Regions from separate parts of the Homo sapiens genome. Here all the other regions are linked to region 3. Evidence: fine-mapped expression QTL. A gene starts in region 3. Each other region holds a variant in brackets. All regions are shown on one strand. Distances are from middle to middle.

The links. PIP is the estimated chance that this variant, and not a neighbour inherited with it, causes the effect.
Region 1: its variant is fine-mapped to the expression of LINC00662 in unexposed skin (GTEx, PIP 0.99).
Region 2: its variant is fine-mapped to the expression of LINC00662 in whole blood (TOPMed, PIP above 0.99).

The regions. Positions count from the first base shown.
Region 1 is chr19:27,844,377-27,847,138 of GRCh38, forward strand. The region is part of intron 1 of LINC02987 (long intergenic non-protein coding RNA 2987); the gene reads left to right. Among named protein-coding and RNA genes, the nearest start is that of LINC00662, 52 kb to the left of the region's middle. The variant T/C (reference allele first, on the strand shown) is at 1,620.
Region 2 is chr19:27,821,897-27,824,658 of GRCh38, forward strand. The region is part of intron 1 of LINC02987 (long intergenic non-protein coding RNA 2987); the gene reads left to right. Among named protein-coding and RNA genes, the nearest start is that of LINC00662, 29 kb to the left of the region's middle. The variant T/A (reference allele first, on the strand shown) is at 1,226.
Region 3 is chr19:27,792,505-27,795,266 of GRCh38, forward strand. LINC00662 (long intergenic non-protein coding RNA 662) reads right to left here and starts at 1,436. Exons shown (of 3, transcript NR_027301.1): 1 at 1,028-1,436; 2 at 496-728. It overlaps LINC02987 (long intergenic non-protein coding RNA 2987), which reads left to right and starts at 927. Exons shown (of 7, transcript NR_146733.1): 1 at 927-1,105. RefSeq lists an enhancer at 1,169-1,648.

The DNA of each region.
Region 1 (2,762 bases), 52 kb after region 3:
TTAAAAAAGAGATCGGTTTACCTGCTATTAGCAGAGTTACCCTGGGCTCCAATGCAGTGACGGCAGATGGGGCCGGGGGCCCTGGGCTCTGTCAGTCTCCAGCAGCCAGGCCAAGGAGGTGTGGGAGTGTGAGTGACTCTTCACTCTTTGATTTGCCAGGGCTTTGAGGAACCGGCCTGTTAGTCTACTTGTTAAGAGGACAATCAGACTTCCATTGACTGGTTTGTTGGCAGGCTGGGCAAGGAGTTTTTGGTATTCGTGGGTTAGGGCATGTTCAGGCCTAATGGCCTTCTTTGCCACACTTAAAACAGGGCCCAGGAGGGTCACTGCTATTGGGTCTTTTGAGCCTCTGGGCAGCCTGGGTAGATAGCTGCTGCTAGGAGCTGGTATTTAGCCTGATCTTGTTGGGCTTTATTTAATTTATTTTGCCCATCTCTGTTGTTGAAAACCTTGAAGGCCAGGATAAGAAGGTCTTGTAGAGGGTTTTGATGGCCATCTTCTACCTTTTTGAGCTTGCGCTGTATGTCAGGAGCAGACTGAGAGATGAAATGGGTATTAAGAACAATAGTTCCTTCCTGGGAGGTGGGGTCAACACTGGTGTATTTTTGGAGGGCCTCTGTAAAGCGGGAAAGAAATTTGGCAAGATTTTCATTGGCCCTTTGGGAGATTTTTTTTTTTGAGTTTTTTAAAGTTTACGGCCTTGTGGGCAGCTTCGTTAAGGCCTGCAATAAGGAAGTGATCATGTGGTTATGAGATGCCAGCCGGGCTCTGTGGGTTGGTACTCCCAGGAGGATTTTTCCCGGGGAAATGCAGCAGCCTTTATGGGCTTAGGAGGGTCTTGCCAATGAAGATCGTCAGCATGTGCCTGAGCTGCAAGCTGCACTCTTTTCTTTGTTTTTCTGGGAGGAAAGTAGAAGAAAGGATAATATAGAGATCATGCCAAGTGGGTTTATAAGATTGAGTGAGGTATTTGAACTTTTTGATGTAAGTGTCAGGATTGGAGGAAAAGGACCTGAGACCGTTCTTAATTTGGGAAAGGTTGGAGAGGGAGAAGGGAATGTGGATGTGAACGAATCCTTTAGCCTCAGCCACCTCTCGGAGGGGAAGTAAGGGGGCCGACTGTTGGGCATGCTGAGTCCGAGAGCAGGTATGAAGTGGAGATGGGGAGCAATCAGAATCAGAAGTTGGGTGGTTAGGAGAGAGGAGGGGAAAGAGGTAAGGCAGGAGCGGGAGCATATGGTGGAGGATTGTGATGATTTGGGGGAGGATTATGGTGTTGTCAGAGAGAAGGAAAGTTGGCAGGGTCAAAGAAGGAGGAATTGTCACTAGGAGTGGTGGAGGGGGGTGTTTGAGGATGGGTCGGGTTTGGAGCAGGCGAGGAGGATTTGGAAAGTAGAGCAGGACTGACAGAGGGAGGGACGGCTACAGAGGGCAAAAAAAAGCCTGAACATAAGGGATCTCTGACCACTTTCCATTGCGATGGCAGAAGTTGTCTAGGTCCCTGAGAATGTTGAAATTGAAAGTGCCATTTTCAGGCCATTGGGAGCCATTGTCTAGTTTATATTTTGGCCAGGGAGTGTTACAATAAAAGATGAGGTTTTTTTGGCCAAATTTTGGAA[T/C]GGAGGATAAGGGCATTAATGTTACAGAGGAGATACCCAAGGGGCGGGGGGGGGATGTCTTTGAGGGAGTGGATTGGGAGGCTCCCTTAGTGAAATGAGAAAGGGAGGGGTAGAGACAGGAGACTTGGCTAGAATGGTGGGAGAAGGCATCCCTTGTCCCACGGTTCAAGTCGGAGAAGTGCGATAATCCTCCGTTCAGGCATCCCCGAAAGGGAGATACCAAGGGCCTAGAGGCCGGGAGGAGGAAACCCTTGGCCCAGTGCTAGGTCTTTCAGGAAGGAAAGAGTAGACAAGGGTTCCAGACCGAAGGCAAAAGTCTCCTTTACTCACCCCTGAGGTGGTCCTGGTGTCGGATGTGTTCACCAAGCGATGGAAAGGCTGTATGAGATCCTTGGGTCTCTAGCAGGTTCTGGAAGGGGTAGTTCGGCCGGGGGAAGAATGGAGGGAAGGAGAAAGGGAGAAAGGGAGGCCAAACTCTACCACCTTCCTGAGTTTCAGCACCAGAAATGTAAGGTCAGCTGAGAGAAAGGATGAGGAGACCCAAAGTCAGACAAGCAAGCTTTATTGAGCTGCTTGGCTGCTCCATCACAGTTAGAGGAGGCAGCCCCACTTACAGACTATAGCAGGGTTTTACAGGGCCAGAACCAGGTCAGGGTCGGGGAGCTGAGTCGGGGCAGGAGAACTGGGTCCCAGTAGAGGAGCTGAGTTGGGGATGCAGGTGTCTCAACTGCATCCTGGAGATGTTTTTTGCCAGCTTTGTTATGCGAGGTTAAGAGATATGTTAACCGCATCCTATAACTGTCTGGACAAACAGATACTGGAGGGCTCAGTGAAGGCAGGGGTTTGTCTTTTGCCCTGGGGTAGCTGTGTGGAGAGCACAAGGGAGTGTATTGTGAGGCCTGTGGGAGGGGAAGGGTCTGGTCGGGGTGACCCTAACAGGGAGTTTTTTCAGACCCCCAATTAAACTTATTTAATCTTAAATGGTCCTGTTAAGAATTCCCTCATCATCTTGTCATGCTCCAAGGCAGGCCCAGGAAAGTCCTAGTGAAAACTCTTGGTGGACTTTTGCGACATTCCACCCTTTGCAAGAGTGCACTGGTTCTCTCAGCTTTTAATATTTAACTTAGCCACTTGGTCAGTACT
Region 2 (2,762 bases), 29 kb after region 3:
ACCCACTTAAAGAAGCAGTCTAGCCCCACTTTCATAGAGCAGCCATGCTATGCTGGGGTACCACTTCTGCCCCTCATCAGGTTGTGCTCTCTAAAGCCTGGAGGCTGAAAAAGCTAAGTTGCTGAAACAGCAAAGTTGATGGCCCACCCCTATCTCTAGGAACTCTGTCCCAGAAAGTTTTCAAACTTCTGTTGGCCAGAGAACATCAGTGGAAGTGGCTGGAGGCCCTGGTTGGGAAGTCCCACTCAGAGATAAGGGGCATATCAGGATCCTACCTAAAGAAGCAGTCTGATCACATCATGGTAGAGCCACTGTGCTGTGCTGGGGGATTGCTTCTGCCCCCTGTATGGTTTGGGGTCTCCTAAGCCCACAGGCTGGAATGGCTGAGTTGTCCAAACAGCAAATGTGGTGGCCCACTTCTCCCACTGGACACTGCATCCAGGGAGAAAGCAAAATTCTGTCTGCTGGAGAATATGGAAGGGGCTGGCTGGAGGCCCGAGTAGGAGGCCCCACCCTGAGATGAGAAATGTGTCAGGGTCCCACTTAAACAAGCAGTCTGGCCACATTTTGGTAGAGCCACTGTGCTGTGCCAGGGCTTCCCTTCATCTGCCATCAGTTTTGCTTGGACTCTCCTAAACCCACAGGCTGGAAAGGCTGAGTCATCCAAACAGCAAGTATGGCAGTCTGCCTCTGTCTCCAGAACTTTGTCTCATCCCAGGTAGGTAAAACACTGTTACTGGGGGCTGGCTGGAATTCCAAGCCAGTGGGTCTTATCGGGTGAGGCATCATGGATGTGGGGCCCACAGACTGATGTTGTTCATCCCTGTGGTTTAGGCTTCCTTTCTGGGATTTTTATGGTGGTCCCACCTCCTGTTTTGTCCGAGTTGCAGTCACCTTTGCTGGAGATCCTGGAGCCGGAGTGTGTAAAGCTTCTGAGATTCTATTTGTCTGAGCAGTTTCTCTGGCAAGACCATGCAGCTCTGTGTGTCAGACCAAAGGCCCTGGTGAAATGGGTTCATGAGAAAATCTCCTGACCTGAGGGATAAAAAGATCCATGGGAGAAGTGTGGTTTCACAGGGTCACACATTCACTCACCACTTCCCTGGACAGGGTAGATTCCCTTCGCTCTGTGTCACTTCTAGGTGGGCAGTTGCCATGCCCTGCTCTTCTCCATTCTGCATGGGTTGAGTTGTTTCCTTCATTATTCCCAGTGCAAATACCTGGG[T/A]GTTTCAGCTGAAGGTGTTGTATTTACTCTCCTCCTTTGTTCCTTTCCATGAGAGCCACACACCATATTACTTCTAGTCAGCCATCCTGGCACCCTTTTCTGCTACAATATTTCAGTAGATGGTTTTTATCCTGTAGGCTGTCTCATGGGCCAAGATGGCTGTAGGACCGTCAGCCTACACCAGCAACCATGTGCATTTCAAAGATCAAGAAGGAGGAAAGATGCAAGGTCAAAGTGGCTCACACAGCTGTGTCAGCCTCATCTGAACAGTCTCCCCAAAGTCCCGTCAATACTTCTGGTTACACCCAATTGTCTTGAATGTTTTCTAGTCATTATTAGCTTCAATAGGGGTCAGGAACTATAACCATTGTGTATGGTAAGTTGCTGTTTGAATAAAACTGAATCTCTGTCTTTAAGAATGAAAGAAAAATAAAAACTATGGCAATAACCAGTGCTCTTTTTCTGCACTAAATTCAAAGATAACAAGGAGAAAATGGAGTTTGTCTCAGGTGAAGTGGCACTTATTTTCCAAGCAAAGCCTCTTTTGGTGTTTATTTATTTTCAGATCAGATGGGAAAAAGTCTTGGTTCTGACAAGCACTCTTTTTATGACCAAAGGTTAGTTAAGCTTAACTTAACTCTCTTCTTGACTTAGTCAACCTTGGCTTGTTGCCCTGCTCCTGGTCTGAGAAGCTTATTTTCAGAAATGCTGCTAAGATTGCTTAGTAAAAATCCACATATTTTTTACATCTACTAAAATCCTCATTCCCCTTCCCTGATATTTAAGTCCTTAGCCTGCCTGTAAACAGAATTCTGTTACAAAAAAAAATTCCTCCTCCTTTGGTATTTTATCAAATTTATTTCAGTAATTTTTTATCCACTGATTTATTTGCTTATTGATTATAAATCCTGAGTTGTCTGTGTTCAGAGTTATGATCGATTTCTGAACCGTATTACAATGGCCATAACATCTACTGCAATAGTGTTAAAGTCTTTCTTCCGAATTTTTAACAAATGTCATAATTTTTTTAATTTGACAGTTTCCCAACAGGATGTTTGAGTATAAAACCAGTTTTCAGTTCCTTCCCAAAAATGATGTCAACCACTGTGTAGTTGTATCTGCCTGACCCTTGCGTGTCTAAAAAAGTATGTTCTTATTTAAAGGGGTGAGGGTGGAAGATTATAGAGCTAACATTTTTCTAAAATGCTGAGTCATAATTGAAACCATACAAATAAAAGAGGTAGAATGCTTGGATTCCAACATTTTTAACCCTGAGGATACTTCAATGTCCATGATCCATATTACTGTGAAGATAATGCACAAAAAAGAAAACTGATGATTAAAATTGAACATGATACAACGTATCATTGACTAAAAACTAACATAAGAGAAAAATATTCTCAAAAACATTTGGGTATCCACAGTTTGACCCAGGAAAGTTGACTGGGTAGATATAATGGTCCATATAGAAAATTTATAGAAGCAGAATCTGTAAATTATGATGTGAAAAAGTCAGATAATTTTTATTTAAATATAG
Region 3 (2,762 bases):
AAAAGAGTAAAATAGAAGACAATAAAATAATAAAATAAAAAGAACTTTTAGTTTACAGAGTAGAAACAGAAGACAGCAATATAAACCATCCAATCTGAAGACTGAAACAAGTTTAAAGAAAATGAAAAGAGGCCTAAGAGACCTGTGAAATGATTGAGTCTGAGACAGAGAGGGAGAGACAGAAAAATTAAATATAATACAAAAACAAATAAACAATAGCTGAAAATTTAAAAACTTGGTCAAAACCGCAAATTCTTATATTCAAAAGGTGAACACACTCCAAAACAAAAACAAAAACAAATAAAACCATATCGAGGCCCTACTGTGATTTAGAAAACTGGCAGAGCAAGATTTTCCAGGGAGTTGCTATGATTTCTCATTTTCACTATTTATAATAATGGAAAATATGCACTCCTTAGTTTTCTTCTTGGAGAAAGTCTGACTTGTCAAACACAGATGACTTTTCAGTTTAGTTTTCAAGGTTTAATTTCTTACCTTGGAAATCAATTAAATTTGTTTCTTTAAAATGTCGCAGTAAAATTGCTCCTCCAGACAGATGTCCACGGAGATTCTGTCCTGCTGCGTCCGCCTTTCACAGAACTGAGGTTGTTCCTACACCAGTTTCAGAAGCGTGTAGGCACGCTTTATTACAGTGGCAGCAGCGTCCCTGTGCGAGGTCTAACCCAGGTGTGGGCCCTGCAGCCAGCCCGGGGGTCCAATGGGTCCTCCTATGGAGCACAGGAAGAATCGTGGCAGGCCAGAGATAGACAAAAGGTGGCTTTTAAAAGGGAAGTGTCAGGTTACCAGGGACTGGGTACTTTTACACGCGGACCTTCGGCCCTGCCCATAGAAAGGGGCAGCACTGCGCATCTCTGAAGGAGTGTGGCAAAGGGTGGGGCAATAAGAAGGGTGGGGCAGAAAGGAGTGGCCCCTCAGGAGGAAGGGGCGGGGAGATCCCAGCTACTAGAGGACGCCCGTTCCAATGGCAACTCTGCCAAGGCGCCTATGAGAGCCTCTTGGCTTTTACCTGGTCTGCGAGAAATCAAACTTTGGGCACAAGTCATGAAGCCGACAAGCCCGGGAGACACAGTGTCAGAATTACAAGGTGAGATCAGCCGCCCGGCCAAGCTATCTTCTCGCTAGCAGGTGAGGCCCGTGAACAGCCAAGCTCCCCTTGGCACGGCGGAACCGCAGTGGACGCGTGGAGGGGCTCCGTAGAGGAGGGACCTTTGCTTGGGATGCGGGGAGCTGTAGTCTCTTATCTGCACCCAGCTTGTTAGTTGTACGCCTGCAGGACTACAATCTCAGCACAAAGCAGGATTGTAGGGCGGTGCGGATCCCTGGAGGGAGACAGCGCGGTGCGCTCCTGCCGGCCATGCTGGCTGGGGTGGTGTCTTAGGCGGTTCCAGCCGTTAGTCACAGGGCGGCCGGACTACAATCCCAGCATACAACGGGAGTGGAGGTGGTGACCTTGAGAGAGGGCCTGTGCTGTGCGCGCCTCGCGGGGCATGCTGGGAGCAGTAGCATCTTAGCTGCTTCCGGCCGCTGGTCGCAGGGCTGCGGGACTACAATCTTCGCATGAAATGGAAGAGAGGGTGGTGCGGATAGCTTGAGGAAGGTACGGATACCTTGAGGGAGGTATGGATACGTTGAGGGAGGTACGGATACGTTGAGGGAGGTTACGGATACGTTAAGGGAGGTACAGCAGCGGTGCGCGCCTTGCAGGGCATGCTGAGAGGAACAGTTTTTTAACTGCTTCTGGCTGTTGGTGGCAGAGCTGCGGGACTACAATCCCAGTATGCTACGGGAGTGGGGATGATGCTGGTCCCTTGAGGGGGGGGGGCAGCGCGGTGCCCTCCTGCCGGGCATGCTGGTAATAGTGTCTTAGCTGCTTCCGGCCGTTGGTCGCAGGGCTATGGGACTACAGTCTCAGCATGCGCAGGGTTCAAGGGTGTTGCGCAGCCCCGCAGGGAGGGGCAGGGCGGTGTTGACCTCTGTTTCCAAACCCATGCTGGCTACTGAATCTGTGCCACCCCTGGCTAAGGGGAGTGAGTCCATAGAGGGACTTGAAGGGCAGGTCTGGGCTGGGCAGTGAGGAGAGTATGATACTGCAAAGTGCGCCTCGCCTTTGCCAAAATCGGTCGGGTCTCAGGCTCACCCCACCTCCCGCTGCTCAGTTCCGTTTCCCTCCAGAGCATCAAGCCTCCTCCCGCCCAGGGGGCCTCCTGCTTTCCTAAGCTGCTGTGGAATCGGCCTGAGGTCCCAGACGCTGTCCATTGTGCTGCTGCTCTCTGCTTTCTCCAGCCAGAGTGCCAGTTCATCCGCTTTTGGGAGAACTCCGCCGCCTGGCCTGCCCGCGGAAAAGGTCACAGCTTTGCAGGGGGTGACATGGGCTATGGCTTCCTGGAAATGTCACCCTCACTAGCGCCTTTTAGATAGATGTGAATTTTGAGACATGAGGGAGAGTAATTATTGGTTTACCCAGGAGATGCTAAGAGCAGAGGAGAAAACCCTAATTTCCAGGCATGTGTCCTGAGCCAGGGACAGGCTGGCCAGACCCTAAGCCCCCAGTGCCGCCAGAGAGCAGCCTACTGCCCTGATTTGTGTGGAATCCCCTTCGTGCTGCTGGGCCTTAGCGTCAGGGACAGCCCAGTCAGGTGAAGGTGGGGATGACCCATGGGCTTCTGGAAGTGGGTTGGTGGTCCTGGGAGGGCCAGCCCATCCCCCCTTGGAGAGGGTCTTTGTGCTGAAGGATGCCCACA